Regions from separate parts of the Homo sapiens genome. Here region 2 is linked to region 1. The links come from fine-mapping of genetic effects on plasma protein levels. A gene starts in region 1. The other region holds a variant in brackets. All regions are shown on one strand. Distances are from middle to middle.

Region 1 (10,311 bases):
GAATTACAGGGCCTTAATTGAGACATGATACCTGACCTGGGGAAGCTCACAGGTTAGTGGCGTAAGGATGACAAGCCGGTCAAAGAAATCAGGTCCCGCCAATAGGAAAAATAATGAGAGGGGTCAGGATGGCTGGGGCCAGGGAGAAGAGATGCCAGCTATTCTTGGGGAGGAAAAATGGAGGAGAGATGGTGAATCGGGGCTATAGAGAAGAAAAGGAGGACAGAGAGGAGATAACTCCTACTCAGTGCCTGGCCTGGGAAAAATTGGGGGTAGGGACTGCCATGCTGTCAGCAAGATGGGGGAGTCCTGTAGAAGCCGGCCTGTGGGAAGGAGGAGGAGACGAGGAAGTGACTTTGGCCATACCAAAGAGAGCGATCCTGGGGGCCATCCTGTCAGAGGTGTCCAGGCTGGATGCTCGGTGTGGAGAAGCCCACATCACTCACCTGAGAGGCCGAGCCCCTGATGGCCTTTGCATCTTCCATGCCTGTATCCCCCACGCCCGCTGCTGGCCTTGCCGATTTCTTCCTGCAGGACCTCACTCTGAGTGAAGAGACCAGAGAGCCTTTCAGTGTGGTCAGATCGGGGTGCAGTGGGCAGACCAACCCCTGCCCTGTATTTCCTACTGGGGGCTTGAGGGGTGACCGAGGCGCAACGGCGGTGGTCCAGTTCCAGAGACCCCAACGGTGAAAACAGAGGCTCCTGCCTCATGGATGGTGGGGCCCGAGGTTGCTACAGATGTGGAGCCCCACAGACAAGGACGCTCGTGAAATGCTCACCGTGCACCCGTGAGCTCATTCTTGCCCCAAGCCCTGGACCCATCCAGGTCCTTCCAGCTCTGGCTTCAGGGATTCTGTTCCCGGTCTGCCCTGCCCCAGGTCTCTCTCTCCCTCCCCAGGGTCAATGCTCACATGATGAAGATGATGCAGAAGGACAGGAAGGCCAGGGCTGTGGCTCCAGCTCCCCCGACTGCTGCCAGTGTCACTTGTGATACAGGTCTTGAGGTGCCTGCAGATGGATTGGAGTTGCTTTGGGGATTTATATCACGGAGAAGTGGGTCTCTTCCCCTCCCACTGTCTGCAGGGCCCTAGACTTCCATTCCCCTCTTCTCCTTCCCAGACACAGAATACGAATGGGAGGGAGGAAAGGAGACTACTTCTGAGGCCAGTGAGGCATGAGAGTGCTGGATGCAGCTTGTCTTGCCTTTATTTACAATTTTGATATTGTGTTCTTGTGGAATCATTTTGCATTCAATTTTAGTTTTTTCAAAAGATCATGGCATTGCAATATTACTTTACTTGCTTTCTGAGTTGGGTTTTTCTTTGGCTTCTTAAATTTGGTGCCAAGGCAAGTGCCTCATGTGCCTCATCCTAGTCTAAGCACTGCAAAGCAAGGCGCTTGTCCCTCCAAACACACCTGGCCGGGCCCCAGCTCCTCCCCTCCAAGACCCACTCCTCCCCTCTCCCCACCCCGCACCCCTTTCCTGGCGGGGAGAGGACAGTGATGCTCTGGGTCGCAGGGAAGTTCCAGGCCTCACAGCTGAGCACAGACCAGAGCTGAGCTCCCCCTTGAAGCTCAGGGGCAGTGGGTGGTCCATGAGGGTGGGGCAGGTGTGTTCTCCTCCTCCAGCCCCTCCCTTACCCACCTGTGCCCTCATTCTGCAGGGAGAGGCTCAGGGAAATGTGCTGGGAGCCCTGAGCGTTCTGAGCTCGGCAGGTGAATTCCCCTTCATCCCTCACGTGCACTCGAGGCAGCTCCAGCAGCCCAGGGTTTGAGGACCGTGAGGGGCACAGGGTCAGGCTCCCCCGGGTCCAGCTCAGCCTGGCAGGGGGATTGCTGTTGACAGCACAGACCAGGCGCAGAGACTGGCCCTCAAGGACTGAAAGAGATGAGCCATTTCCCAGGGCTGTGGATGCTGCAGAGAAAGAGACAGAGGGTCATCCCATTACTGGGTATATACCCAAAGGATTATAAATCATGCTGCTATAAAGACACATGCACATGTATGTTTATTGTGGCACTATTCACAATAGCAAAGACTTGGAACCAGCCCAAATGTCCAACAATGATAGACTGGATTAAGAAAATGTGGCACATATACACCATGGAATACTATGCAGCCACAAAAAATGATGAGTTCATGTCCTTTGTAGGGACATGGATGAAGCTGGAAACCATCATTCTCAGCAAACTATTGCAAGGACAAAAAAACAAACACCGCATGTTCTCACTCATAAGTGGGAACTGAACAATGAGAACACATGGACACAGGAAGGGGAACATCACACACCGGGGACTGTTGTGGGGTGGGGGGAGGGATAGCATTAGGAGATATACCTAATGCTAAATGACAAGTTACTGGGGGCAGCACACCAACATGGCACATGTATACATATGTAACAAACCTGCACGTTGTGCACATGTATCCTAAAACTTAAAGTATAATAATAATAATAATAATAAAAGGAGACAGAGGGTCAGAGAGACAAATGGATCCAGAGAAAGAGGAAGGACACAGAAAGAGACTAGTGAGAGGGACTGACACACAGACATAGACTGAAGTGCAGGAAAACGCACACTCAGTGCTGGGAATGTAAACTTGTCCACTTTTAATTGAGAACAACTTCACTGCATCTTTCAAAATTAGAAACAACATACGACACTGGTATATTTTGCTTTTAGGAATTTATCCCATACACTTAGATATTCCTGTGGAAGTAGATACAAGACTATCCACTGCACAGTTTCTGCGGAAGGATATTTGTGCCATGATTTTCCTTAAGGGATGCCACAAAGTCAGAGTCCATCTGTGCAGTGAAATCACACACGGTCCTAGAGGACGGGGTGGACAGTCTCACTACGATGTCAAACCACCTCTGAGATCCTCCAGGTGCACAAACCAAGACTCAGGGCAGCCTGGACGGACGCTGGTCAGTTCCGTGGAGGGGGATGGGCACTGGAGGACAGACTTTGCTGTGCATTTTGAATTTCTGCCCATGTGACTGTATCATCTGGGCAGAAGTACTTAGATCGAAACTACTGGGAAAACAGAAAGATCAGACAGAGGAAGTATTCAGGAGATGCCTGACAAGAAACTTGAAAGTCTGGTCCCAAAATAAAAACGAACAAAAACCAAAAAAATTGGGAGTCTGATCCAGCTGTGTGAATGTCACCCTGTCCTTGCTGTGGGGCCAAGGAAGGGGTGTGTGGAGGAGTCTAAGGGGAGCAGGGACAGGATGGGGACAGGGGCTCAGATGGTCACGCGGGCTGGAGATGTGGGCTCTTGTGCCCTGGGCTCACGCACAGTGGCAGCTCTGTTTCCCAAAGTGATTCCAGGATGAGGAGAGACCCAGCCCCATCCTGAGCTGAAGGCCCTGCTCCCCCAACCCCAGGGAGGGGGCTCTGTCCTACCTGTGGCATCTCCTTGGAAGACAGTCATGGTCAAGTTCCAAGGAGGGTCTGGGACAGAAAGACATGAAGACCCACATTACTATAAGGACTGGGGACATTGGCCCTGTCTTCCCAGGAGCTGCAAATACAGGGAAAATGGAGTCGGCATTCTCCTGACCCCACTCCCAGCCCAGATTCTGGGACCCAGAACCCAGTGTCCAGGCTTGAACCCCATCCCCTGCCCTCAGGAACACCTCCCAACCCATGAGGGACCTGGGCATCTTGGTCCAGCACTCACAGGACACATCGAGGCGGACGGTACTGGTCGTGGTCACACCTGTCCCAGGCAAGGTCACCTGACAGGTGAGGCTGGTGCCGTGGTCCTGGGGCTTTGGGGTAAGGGTGAGCACTGAGGAGCGGGCAGTAGTGGGGCCCGGGGAGGACACGGAGGCCCCAATCCAGGAGATCATGGGGGGTGTCCCCTGCTTACAGGCCCAGGGCACAGAGCAGGTCAGGTTCCTGGAGTGGCCAGACTCTAGGGTCCCTAGGATGAGGATGTCAGGCCTATGGGTCAGGGCTGGTGAAGATGGGGACACAGGATCAGGAGGAGGTATTTCAGGTGCAGCCCTGGAGGAAGCTCAAGCTCTGGTCCAGCTCCTCCCCGGAGACCGACTTATTTCAATCCCAACCCCCTCCCAGGCCCCATCCCAGCCCTGCCTTTCAGCCCCTCATGACCTTCCCCTGTGGCCTGTGCTGGAGCCCGTGCCTTACCTGTCACAAACACAGACAGCTGCTTAGTTTTGTAATTCAACTGTGATTTGTAACTCCATTTCATGCTTCCTCTCTCTAGCCGAAAGAAATATGACCCCTTATCCCTCTTCCTGGCGTCTCTGATGCTCAGGGAGCAGTCGTTGCTCCAAATGTCCCCAAGGAGTTGGAATCGGCCCTGGGTCTCTGCCTGCACTTCTCTGTCTGGGTTGTTTGTGGCCACTGGAGCGTCTTGGTATGGTCTGTCTCCTGCCCGGAACCAGTAGCCATGAACTGGGTCAGAGTCAGTCCAGCCATCCTGGGGGTAGGAGAAGGAGCAGGGCACATGGACACACAGGCCCTCCTGCACCGTCACCAGCTCCTGCACTTGCAGCAAGTAACCATCCCCATATTGTCTGTCTCCCTCCATCCCCTTTGTCCCCCAGAGCAGGGGCAGCAGCAGCAGCAGCAGCAGCATGTCTGGGTTTGAAGGCGCCAGGGCCGCCAGGGAACGTCTGTTCCTCAGGGTTCTTCTCTCAGAAACTGAGGTCTCAAGACTTAGGGGAGGTCCCGCAGGAGGTTGGGGGTGAAGTCAGAAAAGTGACCTCCTCAGAGGAGGAACTTCACACACAGACACTGTCAGGGCCGGGTCAGTCCTGGGAGATCCACTGTCCACCACCCCATTTCCACTCCTGGGAACCCTGAGGCCAGAGAGGGTGAGAAACTCATCCAGATTCCCACCCTATGCAGGGCCCAACCTCTTTCTTGCTTCCCGGACTTGCCCTTCCATTTGGGTAACATTTTCTGCAAGGTGAAATTGGGTCCCATCTGGCCAGACCCCTGAATCACCCCCGGGGCTGTCACTGTTTGTGGAGGTCATACCAGCCAAAGGTGGAACTCAGGGCCATGAGAGACTGGGGTGCAGGTGAGGTGAGCAGGCAGCCTCTCCTCCCTCTCTCAGCAGCAACGAAGTGGGCACCTCCTCTTTACACAACGAGGTCAACAGAGCAGAGCCAGACACTGTCCTCAAGGAGTCACTGTGCAGAGGGGAGACACGGAGGCTCCTGACGTCTGAGCTCCCCAGGACGGGAGCTTCAGTGGGGGGCACAGGCAAGGTGGGGTCGTTCTCCCCTAGGTCAGGGGTTCAGTCTCAGGAGGCCTGAGCAGAGGGACACGGGGCTGTGGAGGTGAGGATTCTGCATGTTGATACACACGAAGGACGGGGGGCGGGGGGAAGCCTGGCTCGCAGGAGGCCTGGGAAACTGAGGCTGTAACTGTTGTACTGTGGGGTTTGGAAGGGAGAAATGTCAGAAGGGAAAGGGTCAATTTGAAAAGGGCACACACTTCTCCCTTTGTTGCAGCTATCTGGGTATCAGAATGGGTTTCTTCACCACCCGTATCTTACTCAGCCACACTTCCCCTGGTTACTGCACAGCAGGCGGGGTCTGTCAGCCCTGGGGCTTTGCTCCTGCAGGCTCTGCTTCCAGGGGTCCAGGTGAACAGGTGTCATGGAACGAGGACACCAGCCCTGGGGTGTGCACCTTCAGCGATGGGCAGGATTTCTTGAGAGAAGAAATGTGCACCTGAATTCAACAGATGATGATGATGATGATGATGATGATGATGATTATTATTATTATTATTATTATTATTATTTGAGACGGAGTCTCTCTCTGTCGCCAGGCTGGAGTGCAGTGGCGCGATCCCGGCTCACTGCAACCTCTGACTCCCTGGTTCAAGCGATTCTCCTGCCTCAGCCTCCCAAGTAGCTAGGATTACAGGCATACGCCACCACATCCAGCTAATTTTTGTATTTTTAGTAGAGCCGGGGTTTCACCATGTCGACCAGGATGGTCTGGATCTCCTGACCTCATGATCCACCCACCTCAGCCTCCCAAAGTGCTGGGATTACAGGTGTGAGCCACCGTGCCTGGCCTCAACAGATTATTTTAAACTGTGTGGCTGGGGGCTGGGAAGAAGTTAAGGGGGATCCTGGGAGGCGGAGCCTCCTTAGACTCAGGTCAATTTTCTTGAAACATTTTTTGGGGGGTAAATATAAGAAATATAGATAAAAACAACCCCCAAAGAAGACCTCAGTGATTTACATACAACGAGCCCCCTCCTAGAAATGGCACATTGACAAAGTCCCCAGCGCTGCTCATTTGTTTCTCCTTCTTATTGGCCACACCCCACTCCCTCCCAAACGATCCCCTAGCCTCACTTTGGTGCAAATTGCCTCAATGCTTTTCTATATAGTTTTATTATCTGAGCAGGCTGCATTTACTAAGCTTTTGCACGTTTTTCTGAAGACTTTGTATACACAGAAAATCAAACTCTACTTTCTTCCACTCAGCTTCATGGATCTGCCCGTCTCCTATCTTCCCCTCATTACTTATAACCTGGAGTAGATCATTCGGCTGTGATAATTGAGAAGGGAAGGTGCAGGGCTTGGGTGTGCATAGCCGACTCCCACCCCCATCACCAATGCTTGCATTTGTAGCTGGTATCTCATTCTGCAGCCATTTCCCCCTCCTGGGCCTCCTATCCTTGCCCAGTAGAGACAGCTGCAGTATCTCAATAGTCAGAAGGGCCGAGCCATGGCACAGGTCTTTTCCATGGTCCCCAAGTGGTAATTGAAGCCTTCAGTGAAGACTCCTGTGCAGGCCTTGCTCTCCAGCAACTTAGCCAGGCTGGAACTACAATTCCCAGAATCCCCTTCCCTGTTTGCTTCCTGGACAAAGTTCACCACAAGGGAAGGGGGAAGTTGGAGCAGCAGCCCTGAGGGGTCCGTGTAGGGGCAGGAGCTGTTGCAGCTCTCACATATTGACGCTGACCACTGGCCCATCTCATAGGGAGACACGATAGCCGCTCACTTGTTCACCTGCTGGACGGCAAGGAGGGCGTGTGGGACACCACGGGCTATGCCTTAGGGAGCAGAGAATCATTGAATCCTGACATGGGGATTGGTGACCCACATGGACACAGGTGGCCCAGAGAGACACATACAGTGACAGGCAAGGGATCCATAAAATGGCATCCCAAATAGTTCTCTCATCCTAAGACGATGTCCCAGGGTCTCTTTGACCTGACAACTAGCGCCATTCACCTTTTCAGGGGAGACCCAGCTTCCCAGGGCAAAGGGAAGGACACAGCGCATCTCAGTACCCAGAATGCCCAATGCTTGGGTGTGTGTGTGTGTGTGTGTGTGTGTGTGTGTGTGTGTGTGATTGAGAGAGAGAGAGAGACAGAGAGAGAGAGACCCTGTGTGTGAGGGAGAGGGAGTGTCTGTGTGTACCTGTGTGTTTCTGTGTATGAGCTGAGCACTGCCTCCTTGGGCAGTGTGACAGTTAATTTGATGTGTCAGCTTCACTGCCCTGGGAACCCCCATTCGTGTGTCCTTTCATAACCTCATTCCTTACCCTTCACATGCACATAGAGCATTTCTGTAATTACATTCACATAGATCTCCCTTTTCTCCCTAAAGAGGTCTGTCCCTGCATCTCGCCTCTGTGTGTCTCTGACGTCCAGAAAGCAGGTGCTGGCCTGGGGTCTGAAGCAGGTGGAATTGGCTCTGGGTCTCCTCCTGCTCTTTTCCAACTAGATTGCTTCCAGCCACTTGAGGATCCTGATGGAAATGTCCCCTTTCTGGGACAGTAGCCTTGGACAGGGCTGGAGTCAGACAGGTACCCACAGGGGTGGAAGATGGAGCAGTGCGTAGTCACAGAAACCCTCCTGCACCTGCACCAACTCTGGGGCTTCCTGCCGGGATCTCATATCCTGAGCCAGATCCCCTGTGGGGAAATGAGGGTCAGCCCAGCCCAGCCCCATGGTTCCTCTCCCTGAGGCCCATTCTCCTGCCCACAGCAGGGGCAGCAGCTATTGCAGCGTGAGCTTCTTTAGGGTGAGCCTTGGTGTCGCAGGGCCCTAGAAGGGCCCCACAGGAAGCCTGGGGGTAAGATCAGAAAAATAACTGACCACAAAAGAGGACCTTGGCCCCGACACTGCCAGAGCTGTCAGGGCTCCTGGGGAGTGGCCATTTCTACTCTCCGGATGGGTCTTCAGTGTGGGCCACACACAGCAGGGAGGCCCCGACCCACAGCTGCAGGCTCTCTGCCCACAGCCTTTCCCTCCCACAGCACTGTCCACACCAGGGAAGCAGGCACTGCCTGTCCATTACAGCTTCTAGGTGCTCGGGAGGGTCAGTCCTGCCAGAGCTGGGACTCAGGAGGGGCTGGCGGAGGAACCACGAGGCATGAGAGATGGGGAGGGGTCCCCCGAGGCGGGAGAGGTGATGTTTAATGAATGAGCACAATCACCACATCAGGAGCATCTCCTCCTTTCAGGGGGATGGAGGCAAAGGGGAGAGTGTGACAGACTCTGTCTCCTTCCTTGGGAAGTTCCCTAATGAACGAGGGGGCAGAGGAGCCCTGGGCCACCCCAGCTCCTGTTAGTAAGGGCTGTGATGCTTGAAACACAGGCAGGGCTTGTGGAACCCCGAGGGCCCTGTGCAGCTAGAAGGTGCGGTCTCAGGTATACTCGGGCAGAGTGGACGGGACCAGGACTCTGAGGTGCTGTGAGCATGCGGCCCCACAGGTGGTCCCCAGCCTTCCTAACCTTCTCAGTGCCCCCTGCCCAGCATGCCTGGTGGTGACTGCACAGCCGAGGCCCTGTGAGCCCAGCATGGGGAGCAAGGCTGAGCCCAAGATGCTAGGGGAGGCCCTGGCTCTGGAGTGTGAGGGTCCTGGGCCCTCTCCCTCCAAGTCTCAGTCTCCTCATCTGTCCCCTGGAGGGATCACAGCACCCACCCCTCAGCCTGAGGGAGAACCCAGCTCGAGGAGGCGACGTTCTCTGCAGACTCAGGCATGGCCAACATGCTCTGTGTCCCTGGGCAGGCCCGAAGCATCCACGTGTCTGGCCCTAACCATTCTCAGGGGTCACTCGGAGTCCTGCCCTCAGTAAGGAGCTCCTGGTGGTCCACACTGCTCTGGGGCTTCCTCAGCTGAGGCCTCACAGAGAGAGTTCAGGGGTACAGGCTCTGTAGCTGGATGGCTGCTGGCTTGAGCTGGGCTCTGTAAAACCCACGGTGCTGTCTTGGGAGGGGGCTTACCTGCACTGTGCATCGTCGGATGTCAACACTTACGGGGTGTCAGGGATGAACTGTGTCCCCTACAAATTCCTATGCTGAAGTCCTAACCCCCAGCACCTCAGAAAGTGACCATATTTGGAGACGAGGACTTATAAAAAGGTGACTAAGTTAAAATGAAGTTGTTAGCTCTCATCCTACATGAGCTGTGTCTTTATTAGAAGGGGTGATTAGGGGTGGAGTGTGGTGGCTCAGGCCTGTAATCCCAGCACTTCCGGAGACCGACACGGGCAGATGACTTGAGGTCAGGAGTTGGAGACCAGCTTGACCAGCATGGTGAAACCCCGTCTCTACTAAAAATACAAAAATTATCCAGACGTGGTGGCATGTGCCTGTAATCCCAGCTACTCCAGATGCTGAGGCGGAAGAATTGCTTGAACCCGGGAGACGGTGGCTGCCGTGAGCCAAAATGGTGCCACTGCACTCCAGCCTGGGCGACAGAGTGAGGCTCTGTCTCAAAAAAAAAAAAAAAAAAAAAAAAAAGGTGTGATTAGGACAGCGACATACTCGGGAGAAAGACCACGTGGGACACAGGGAGAAGATGCCACCCGCAAGCCACCGAGAGGCCTCAGAAGGAAGCAACGCTGACCACAGCTTGGTCTCAGACTTCCAGCCTCCAGAAGGGTGGGAAAACAAAGGCGTTGGTGAAGCCACTCGGTCTGTGTTCCTTTCTCAAGGCGGCCCTGGCAAGAGAGTCCATGGAGTGGTCGAGAGGATTCGATGTGTTCCTGTGAGCACAGCCCGGTGTGGACCGCGGTGGATGCAGAGTCCCACAGGGGTCTGGGACAGCCTGTAACATGGGATGCTCAGAGGATGGAAGGAGAAAAGGGAAGGGAAGGGCTCCTCACCAGAGGAAACCTGTGCTGCTGCCGCCCTGTCTCTGACATCTGCAGGGCTGCCCCCTCCACCCACACTCTCCCTCCCTCCCCAGGACCGGGCAGGGCTCTCAGCCGCAGCCCCTCGCTGCCCCTGCACCCTGGGCAGTTGCCTCCCATCTATGGGGCGGAGCCGCCTGGGCGTCTGGGCTGGGC
Region 2 (10,311 bases), 21 kb before region 1:
GACGTACACTTGGTCAAGTGTAAGTTTAAATTTATACAAAATTGACAAACTATTCTCCAAAGTGTATATACCATTTTGTATTCCTACCAGCAGTAGACATGAGCTCTGATCACTTCACATCCTTGCTAGCATGTGATATCATCCACATATTTTAAAATTTCTTGTTACCTTTGTTGTACTTTTCAGTCATTTTTCTTAGGTATGTAATTCTACCTCATTCTTCTTCTATTCTACAATTACCTAATGACAAATTATATTGAGGCTATTTTCACGGCCTTGTTCGCCATCTGCTTTTCTTTTTTGGTGAGGTGGCTATGAAATCTTCAGTAGCTTTTTTCTTAATTGTGGTAAAATATACAGAAGAAAAAAATTACCGTTTTAACTATTTTTCAGTGTTTAGAGAAGTTGCACCAAGTACACTCACGTTGTTATGAATCACTATGATTTATCTCCAGAAGTTTCTTCACCTTCCCAAACTGAAACTGCATCAAAGAGGTGAAAACCCCCTATTTCTTTCTGATCACAGCCCCTGGCAAGCATGGCTCTACTTTCCGTGTCTGTGAATTTGCCTCCTCTACACACCTCATATAAGTGGAATCATACAGTGTTTGTCCTGCTGTGACTGACTTAGAATATATTTAAGGTTCATCCACGCTGCATCATGTGCTAGCTTCTCCTTCTTTTTTTTTTTTTTTTTTTTTTTTGTTGTTGTTTGAGACGGAGTTTCACTCTTGTCGCCCAGGCTGGAGTGTGATGGCGTGATCTCAGCTCACTGCAACCTCCACCTCCCAGGTTCAAACAATTCTCCTGCCTCAGCCTCCTGAGTAGCTGGGATTACAGGCACCTGCCACCAGGCCCGGCTAATTTTTTTTTTTTTTTTTTTTTGAGACAGAGTTTCGCTCTTGTTGCCCAGGCTGGAGTCCAGTGGCGTCATCTTGGCTCACTGCAACCTCCACCTCCCAGGTTCAAGCAATTCTCCTGCTTCAGCCTCCCGAGTAGCTGGGATCACAGGTACGTGCCACCACACCTGGCTAATTTTGTATTTTTAGTAGAGATAGGGTTTCACCATGTTGGTCAGGCTGCTCTCAAATGCCTGACCTCAGGTGATCCACCCGCCTCGGCCTCCCAAAGTGCTGGGATTACAGGCGTGAGCCACCGTGCCCGGCCTGTATTTTCTTTTCTTTTTTTTTTTTTTTTTAGTAGAGATGGGGTTTCACCATATTGGCCAGGCTGGTCTCGAACTCCTGACCTCAGGTGATCCACCTGCCTCGGCCTCCCAAAGTGCTGGGATTACAGGTGTGAGCCACCATGCCTGTCTCCTTGGTTTTTTTGTTTGTTTTGTTTTTTGTTTTCTTTTTCTTTTTCTTTTTTTTTGAGATAGGGTCTTGCTCTGTTGCCCAGGCTGCAGTGCAGTGGCATGATTGGGCTCACTGAAACCTCTGCCTCCCAGGTTCAAGCGATTCTGCTGCCTCAGTCTCCCGAGTACCTGGGATTACAGGCACATGTCATCATGCCTGGCTAATTTTTATATTTTTAGCAGAGATGGGGTTTCATCATGTGGGCCAGGCTGGTCTAGAACTCCTGACTTCAAGTGATATGCCCACCTCGGCCTCCCAAAGTGCTGGGATTACAGGCGTGAGCCACCATGCCCCAGCCCAGCTTCTCCTTCTATTTTAAGGCTGAGTAATATTCAATTGCATGTATACAATACACTTTGTTTATTCATTCACTTTTTAGGAATAGCAGGGTTGCTTTTCCCTTTTACCTACTGTGAATATGCTTCTGTGAACACAGATGCATAAAACTATGCTCAAGTTCCGGCTTTTGATCTTTTGGGCCATATACCCAGAGGTGAAATTGCTGGATCATAAGATCATTCTATTTTTAATTTTTTTGAGGAACCCCACTACTACTCTCTAGAGCAACTTCACCATTTAACTTTCCCATCAGCAATGCACAAGAGTTCCAATGCATAAGAGATCACATGGACAGCTCAGCAAGCTGAATAATGGCCACCCAAAGAAATACAGTCTCAGCTCCTTGAACTTCTAAATATTACCTTACAAATAAAGTGTCTTTGTATAATTTTTTTTGAGACAGTCTCACTCTGTTGCCCAGGCTGGAGTGCAGTGGTGCGATCTCAGCTCACTGCAACCTCCGCCTCCCAGGTTCAAGTGATTCTCCTGCCTCAGCCTCCTGAGTAGCTGGGATTACAGACGCCCGCCGCCACACCCAGCTAACTTTTGCATTTTTGGTAGAGACCAGGTTTCACCATGTTGGCCAGGCTGGTCTCGAACTCCTGACCTCGAGTGATCCACCAGCCTCAGCCTCCCAAAGTGCTGGGATTACAGGCATGAGCCACCATACTTGGCCACTGTGCAGAGAATACTGTAGCCACATGGAATACATGTGGTTAGGGCACTGTGTTAGCTAGTCTGGGCTGCCATAGCAAAATACTATAAATTAAGCCTCCTATAAACAACAGAAATTTATTTCTCACAATTCTGGAGGTTAGAAGTCCAAGGTTAGAAGATCAAGTTGTCAGATGATTTGTTTTCTTGTGAGGCTCTGTTTCCTGGCTTGTAGATGCCACCTTCTCACTGTGTCCTCACATGGTTGAGAGACAGCAAGTTCTGTGGGGTCTCTGCTTATAAGGGCACTGTATTAGTCCGTTTTCACACTGCTGGTAATGACATACCTGAGACTGGGCAATTTACCAAAGAAAGAGGTTTAATGGACTTACAGTTCCACGTGGCCGGAGAAGCCTCACAATCATGGCAGAAGGTGAAAGTCATGTCTCATATGGCGGCAGACAAGAGATGAGCTTGTGCAGGGAAACTCCCCTTTTTAAAACCATCAATCTTGTGAGAATTATTCACTATCATGAGAACAGCACAGGAAAGACCTGCCTCCATGATTCAATTACCAGCCGCAATGTCCCTCCCACAACACGTGGAAATTCATGATGAGATTTGGGTGGGGACACAGCCAAACCATATCAGGCACTAATTCCATAGTGGGTCCCCACCCTCATGACCCCATGTAACATAATTACCTACAAAAAGCCCCATCTCCAAATACATCACATTGGTGGTTAGGGCTTCAACATATGAATTTTGGGGGAACATAAACATGCAGTTCATAACAGGCATTTTACTGAAACCTTGTCATCTCCCATGCCATGAGTTTAGATCAACAAATAATCATGCGGAAAAAAAATCTATATAGAAATTTCTTACAGCAAAGCCTCTGCTCATTTTTTCGATAATCTCATTTTTTTAAATTGCAAGGAACAGAAATGAAAACCGATAGCTTAATCTGGAAAAGAAGGGTTTTATTAAAAAAACACGTTTGCTTAATTTTTGGCCCAGGCAGTGGGGAATCTGGGAACATCTCCTAACTCAAGGTCAAGATCAGCACATCACTGATATCCAATGTGACCCTCAGGGTGCTGTTTCTTGCTCTCCGCATGGTGGGCTGCAGGTGCCTGAGCCATCTTCATTCTCTGGCTAGCAATGTTCGTGCAATGTGAGGTCTCCCCAGCTCAAGGCTCATGCCGTTCCTGCAGCTGAAAGGGAGAGCAACACCTCCATCCTGTAAGCTCCAACAGCATCTTCCCGACAGCCACGAGGAGCCACATCCAGTTCTTTCCTCCATGTTTTTATGAGCGAATAGGTTGACTGGAGTTTGAACTTCTGGGTTCAAACCCTCAGAAGTTCAAGGTTCAATCCCCCATTGACCTATTCCCACACTCGATATCCATGATAAGAATGATTCTCAGGGTACATTGGGCTTGTTGACAAAGAAAGGAGGATTTTTTATAAGAATTTCCATCTCTGACTTTTGTCCAACAATTAGATTCTATTCCTTGTTTCTAAATGAAAATATGAAGAAACACATCCTTTCGGAACTAAAATAAATAACACTTTGAAGTTGAAACAGAGAAAATATGAGGCTGCACATGGAATTAGTAGGAAATTATGCTCTCATTTGAGGTTATTCTGATTTCGCCAAGGAAGATTTAAGCTCAAAAGGTAAGGTGGACAGGGAATCACCCCATGGTGAGACACATAGGGATATTCGGGCATAGAGTACAAGCTAATTAAGCTTGATATGTACGAGGAATTTCTCTTAGTAATCAATGAGAATGTGAAGTGTACAGAAAATAACTTTTGATGAACAAGGAAGAGCACATGAATTTACATACAAGAAATCTTTCCTCACTGGGCAAAAAGCTCATTCAATTTCTTTCTTTTTTTCAAGCCAGAGTCTCTGTCACCCAGGCAGGAGTGCAGTGGCATGATCTTGACTCACTGCAGCCTCAACCTCCTTGGTTCAAGAGATTCTTGTACCTCAGCCTCCCAACTAGCTGGGATTACAGTCGTGTGTCACCACGTCCCACTAGTTTTTTGAATTTTTGGTAGAGATGAGGTTTTGCTATGTTGGCCAGGCTGGTCTCAAACTCCTGGCCTCAAGTAATCCTCCCAGCTTGGCCTCCCAAAATGCTGGAATTACAGGTGTGAGCCATCATGCCCAGCTTTATTCAGTTCCTTAAGGAGGATGAGCAGCATTGAGCGGATGGGAATGTGCCTTCTCTGGAGACAGGTTTGCATGTAGAGATGCCATCATAATTTATAAGGACAGGTTTTCTCTTTTTTCCTATTTTTTAGAGATGGTGTTTTGCCATGTTTCCCAGGCTAGTCTCCAACTCCTGGGCTCAAATGATCCACTTGCCTTGACCTCCCAAAGTGCTGGGATTACAGATGTGAGCCACTGTGTATGGCTTTCTTTTTTCCTTTCCTTTTCTTTTCTTTTCCTTTTTAGACGGAGTCTCACTCTGTCACTCAGGCTGGAGTGCAGTGGTGCGATCTCGGCTCACTTCAACCTCCACCTCCTTGGTTCAAGCGATTCTCCTGCCTCAGCCTACCGAGTAGCTGGAACTCCAGGCGCGCACCACCATGCCCAGCTAATTTTTGTATTTTTAGTAGAGACAGGGTTTCACCATGCTGGCCAGGATGGTCTCCATCTCTTGACCTTGTGATCCGCCCACCTCGGCCTCCCAAAGTGCTGGGATTATAAGCGTGAGCCACCGCGCCCGACCCCAGGACAGGTTTTCTAAGGCTCATGGCCCTTGGCCATTTGCTGCATGATCTCCATCTCCATAGGGCTTTGTAGCAGCTCTCATTGCCTCTCCCACAATTCATGCATCAGGCAATGCCCAGGAACCACAAGAGTATAATTAATATTCACATTCAAAATCATAGTTGTTTCTATTCAATGTTATAGCATGCTTTTTTTTTTTTTTTTGGCTTTTAATGAAAAAAAGCATTGATTTCTGTTGTCT[T/G]GGAAATCAGAGGGGTAGACCTGGCTTCAACGGTGGCTGGATTTCAGGGTCCGATGATATAAGGGCTCATCTCTCTGTTTGCTTTTGGCTCTTGTTCTTGTTTGTTGTTGCTGCTGTGGTTGTTCATTTATTCTGCCTGGTTTTTGTTCTCAGGCTAATAAATGTAGGAGCTCTGATGTCCACTTTGCAGATGAGGACGCTGAGGCATACAGAGATCAAGTAATTTCCCTTCTGAGGCAGAGTCCGTGGACTTCCCACAGCCCCATGACACCCCCTTATGGCTGTGTATCCAACTCAACATTCCCTGCCCTGATCAGGGCGCCCCCTGCTGCTCACCCAGAGATTTGCCAGGATCCCTGCACCAATCTCCTCCACCCTTTTTGACTCCCAAATGCTTCTTGACACCTGACTCCCACCCTGTCACTCAGAGACTAACCTATGTCAAGATTTACAAACTCCCCGGGTGCGGTGGCTCACGCCTGTAATCCCAGCACTTTGGGAGCCCGAGGCGGGCGGATCACCTGAGGTCAGGAGTTCGAGACGAGCCTGGCCAACATAGGGAAACCCCCATCTCTACTAAAAATACAAAAAGTAGCTGGGCGTTGTGGCAGGCGCCTGCAATCCCAGCTATTTTGGGAGGCTGAGGCGACAGAATCGCTTGAACCTGAGAGTCAGAGGTTGCAGTGAGCCGAGATCGCGCCATTGCACTCCAGCCTGGACAACGAGAGAGAAACTCTGTCTCAAAAAAGAAGAAGAAAAAAAAAAAAACTAAACAAACAAAAAACAAACCCCCAAAAACAAAGATTTACAATCTTACCAAACAGGAATGGTAACTACAGGAAGTAGTTACTATCTGAGGTTATTGGTAATGTTATTGCTATTGTTAATGTCACTTTTTTTTCCCACTCCCATTTTCTCTGGAAGCCGTTTGGGAGGTCCTGCCTCTCACCTTCTCTATCCACTTCTTACTCCTACCAGAGGTTGTAGACAAAGATGAGGGTTGATGCATTGTGCAACTCTGTGGCTCCCCCTAGTGATATGATACATTTGGGGTGATGGGGTTTGCCTAGACAGGGCCCCAAGGATGCTGGTAGGGAGCAGGTAGGGAACCCCACCTTGTGTACAGCTCCTCAAAAATCCCAGGTTAACATTCCATTTGGTCTCCAGGCCTGATAAATGGGGAGGAGTGGCTGTTCATTAGTGTGCACTCTGGCTGCACCGGGCAGGACTTTGCCCCGGGAGGGACTGTGACGTTCTGCTCTCTTGGTAAGAAGGTACAAAGCTGGGCTCCAGAAATGGATTGAGAGCTCCTTGGGTCTGCTCCCCAGGCTGCCACCCGCCCCCAGGTGAGCCCTGGATACTGCTATTCCTGACTGAAGAGACAGGGTTTTGGACAAGGTGCTCCAGAAGGCCAGATTTCTCTCTGGGCAAGGTTCATGTGTTTCCCACACAAGTCTACTTCTGGGATTCTTCATGGATCTACAAATCGGACTAGGCAAAAGCTGTGCATGCTGCTGTGTATACAAAATAGTAAACCCTGATATAGACGATGGACTTTGGGTGCTAATACCGTATCAATGGAGGTTCATCAAGTATGACAAATGTACCACTCTGGTGGGAGATGCTGATAATAGAGGAGGTTATGCATGTGTGGGGGCAGGTGGTATATGGAGAATCTCTGTACCTTCTGCTCAATCTGTGAACCTAAACTGCTCTAAAAATTATGTCTATCCCGTCATATGCTTCTGGGAAAAATTGTCTATATATATTTTTTAAATGGAAAGAACTGGCTGGGCATAGTGGCTCAAGCCTACATCTCAGCACTTAAGGAGGCTGAAGTGGGAGGATTGCTTGAGTCCATGAGTTTGAGATCAGCCTGGGCAACATAGGCAGACTCTGTCTCTACAAAAAAAAAAAAAAAATTAGCTAGGCATGGTAGTGCATGCTTGTGGTCCCAGCTACTCGGGAGGCTGAGGCAGGAGGACTGCCTGAGCCTGGAGGGTTGAGGCTGCAGTGAACCATGATCATGCCACTGCACTCCAGCCTGGGCAACAGAGCAAGACCCTGTTTCAAAACAAATTGAAAAAAGCTTAATGCTCCTAAATAGGGTATTGGTTGAATAAGTCAACACACATCAAATTCAGTGGAATACTATGCAGCCATGAATAATTAACAGTAGTGGTGCAGAGCTGTTGCTTCTCCAGTGGGGATCCAGGACCCAAGGGCAGGGCGTGAAAAGTGCTTCAGAGGAGCTAAAGGCAGAAGGTCCACTTTGCATATCTTCTGGGGATGTCATTTATACTCAAATACTGAGTCAGGTCAATCAGACAACTTTAGTGACAATGAATGCATTATTTTCCCGTTGAAACTAACAGAAACGTGTTTTTCCATAGGCCACAAACATTCATAGGGACTTTCAGAGTAAAACAGAAGACTTCAGAGATATTTTGTAATTATATCTAGATACAGAAGACTTGAGATATTTTGTAAATATATGCTAGACACTCAGAGCTGTATATTCACCTTCCTCTGATTAAATTTGCCCTTAATGTTTCAGAATTCCTAATAAAGGACATTTAAGAATATGATCCCACTTTGGTAAACATTATGTATATGTGCATGAGTGTATATAACACATCAAAACTGAAAAGAGAGGATGGCAGATTGCAGGCATTGTTAGCCGGCCTCTCCCACCTTGGAAAGATGAAACAGTGTATAAAGATTTATGTTGTGACCTTTTCACCAGGGACCAACACAGGAACTTAACAGGAAAACTGGAAGAAACCACAGACCTTTCTAAAGAAACGGTGGGCAGCAGCCTACACCACGAGCCAGACAGAAAACTGTGAGTCCCCACAGTGTGAGAAGGGGAGAGACTGACTCAGGGATGTGCACTCCCACTGGGGTGCCACGCAGTCCAGGCCACAGGAGGGGGAAGCCCTCACCCTGCCCAGCACTGGAGCTGAGTTAGGGAGCGTTGGGGAGTAGATAAGGAGTCACATTGGGATGTGCTTGGCGTGCAGTCCTGGGCTCCAGCAGGGACAGAGGGAAGCCATTCCCGATGCTACCTCACAGGGGGCCTTGCAGAAGCCAGCTAGCTGACTCAGGAGGCGGTCACGGGTTGAGAGAAGCTCCCGACTGAGATCTGCAATGTCATCTTGAGTGGGGAAAGTAGACTTGCCCGAAATCTAAGACTCATAGGTGTTCTTGAGGGAGAAGAAAAAGCAAAAAGTTGAGAAAATTCAATGATTGGAAAGATACAGAATCAACCTAAGTGCTCTTCAACCCGAAGGAAAGGCTACAAAAGAATACACATCCCTGAGTCAGTCTCTCCCCTTCTCACACTGTGGGGACTCACAGTTTTCTGCCTGGCTCGTGGTGTAGGCTGCTGCCCACCGCTTCTTTAGAAAGGTCTGTGGTTTCTTCCAGTTTTCCTGTGAAGTCTCTGTGTTGCTCCCTGGTGCAGCTGCAGCGTAAGTAGGTTAGACAGGCGTTTCACAGCCTCCCTTACACAGCCTCCCTTAAAGGGAAACACATTTGCTAAATAGACGGAGAGAACAATCCGCCGGACAGCTCGCAAACCCCGACAGCGCATAAACCGCATCCTGGGCTCGTGGTCAAAACATCCTGTAGCAAGGAGGTAGAAGGGAAGAAGGGACAGTCCCCATATCCGTGCAAGTGCAGAAACCCATGCTTAGGTAGTGTCCTTGGGCTGACCTATGCTCATTATAATAGTGAAAACACACCCTCACGTGGAGACTTAAGGTGCTACTGAGACAGCGATGTATATGCACTAGCATGTACAGCCATTGCGCATGCGGGCCTAACAGACCACCCAGAACACGCTTAAGAGCAACACCGTCCCACCCACGCATGAGTAATCACGGAAGATTCCCCTAAAGGGAGTTTCCCCAGCGTCAGTCAGCGCTGTCTCACCTTTGAGCAGCCGCTCTGACCAGCTGTTAAGAGTGCACGTTCACTTTGCAATTAACTCTCTTGCTTACTTTTACCTTGGACTCACTCTCGAATTCTTTTCTTGAGGCAAAGTCAAGAACCGGAACTGGCCCACCAGCCATAGCAGGGGAGACTGTGTGTGCCGCGGTGCAGGCAGCACTCATGCCGGGAATGGTGAGGATGGCACCAGCTTGTCGGATTTTTTGTTGGCATTTGTGTTTGTTTCTCTACTCACCACCCAAGTGATAAAATAGGATCCTTGGTGTGGAACTTAGAATTATGCCAAAAAGCTAACAGTTCTCCTTTCTAGCCAGCTACAAAGCCAGACCATGCCCACCACTGCCATGCTTGCAAAACGGGTCACCACGGCCTGTAGGTGAGCAGTTGTGTAGGAGAAAAGAATCCAATTTTTTTGTGTGCTCTTTACTATTATGTAGACAGCTCCGTCTTCAGCCCACACTTTGGTTCCCTGTGGATTTCAGTTTGTGTCCTGTGTCTGAGGACAGCGGACTGAATACAGTGATTTTTTACCTCCAATAAATGTCATCCCGCTGCCCTTCCTGTGCCTCGAGGGTTGTCTGTTTTTCTCTTTCTTTTTCTTTCTTTCTCTTTCTTTCTTTCTTGCTTACTTTTCTTTCTTTCCTTCCTTCCTTCCTTTTCTTTCTTTCTTGTCTCCTTCCTTCCTTCCTTAACTCCTTCTTTCTTTTTGACAGAGTCTTGCTCTGTCACTCAGGCTGAAGTGCAGTGGCATTATCCCAGCTCACTGCAACCTCCACCTTCCAGGTTCAAGCGATTCTCCTGCCTCAGCCTCCCGAGTAGCTGGGATTACAGGCGCTCGCCACCACGCCCAGCTAATTTTTTGCATTTTTAGTAGAGACGGGGTTTCTCCATGGTGCCCAGGATTGTCTTGATCTCTTGACCTCGTGATCTGCCTACCTCGGCCTCCCAAAGTGCTGGGATTACAGGTGTGAGCCACCGCACCCGGCCCTGTTTTTCACTTTCTTTTTTTTTTT

Which allele goes with the higher level. Positions count from the first base shown, and alleles are read on the strand shown. Strength reflects both the effect of a copy and how common the allele is.
In carriers of allele G in region 2, the plasma level of the protein whose gene starts at base 4,682 in region 1 tends to be higher than with T alone (strong association).

What was found. A credible set is the group of variants that fine-mapping cannot tell apart. PIP is the chance, under the fine-mapping model, that this variant and not a neighbour inherited with it causes the effect. Protein levels are from antibody-based Olink assays in UK Biobank. Linkage for the fine-mapping came from a reference panel and not from the study's own genotypes, which makes the PIPs less certain.
Region 2: its variant is the best candidate, but not a certain one, in a credible set for the plasma level of the SIGLEC8 protein (UK Biobank, PIP 0.68).

What each region holds. Positions count from the first base shown.
Region 1 is chr19:51,453,773-51,464,083 of GRCh38, forward strand. It overlaps SIGLEC8 (sialic acid binding Ig like lectin 8), which reads right to left and starts at 4,682. Exons shown (of 7, transcript NM_014442.3): 1 at 4,162-4,682; 2 at 3,689-3,967; 3 at 3,412-3,459; 4 at 1,646-1,915; 5 at 912-1,008; 6 at 447-543. The coding sequence starts at 4,615. It also overlaps the pseudogene SIGLEC25P. RefSeq lists an enhancer at 9,445-10,193.
Region 2 is chr19:51,432,760-51,443,070 of GRCh38, forward strand. No RefSeq gene overlaps it. Among named protein-coding and RNA genes, the nearest start is that of SIGLEC10, 20 kb to the left of the region's middle. RefSeq lists a silencer at 5,873-6,043 and enhancers at 8,564-8,853, 9,154-9,293. The variant T/G (reference allele first, on the strand shown) is at 5,345.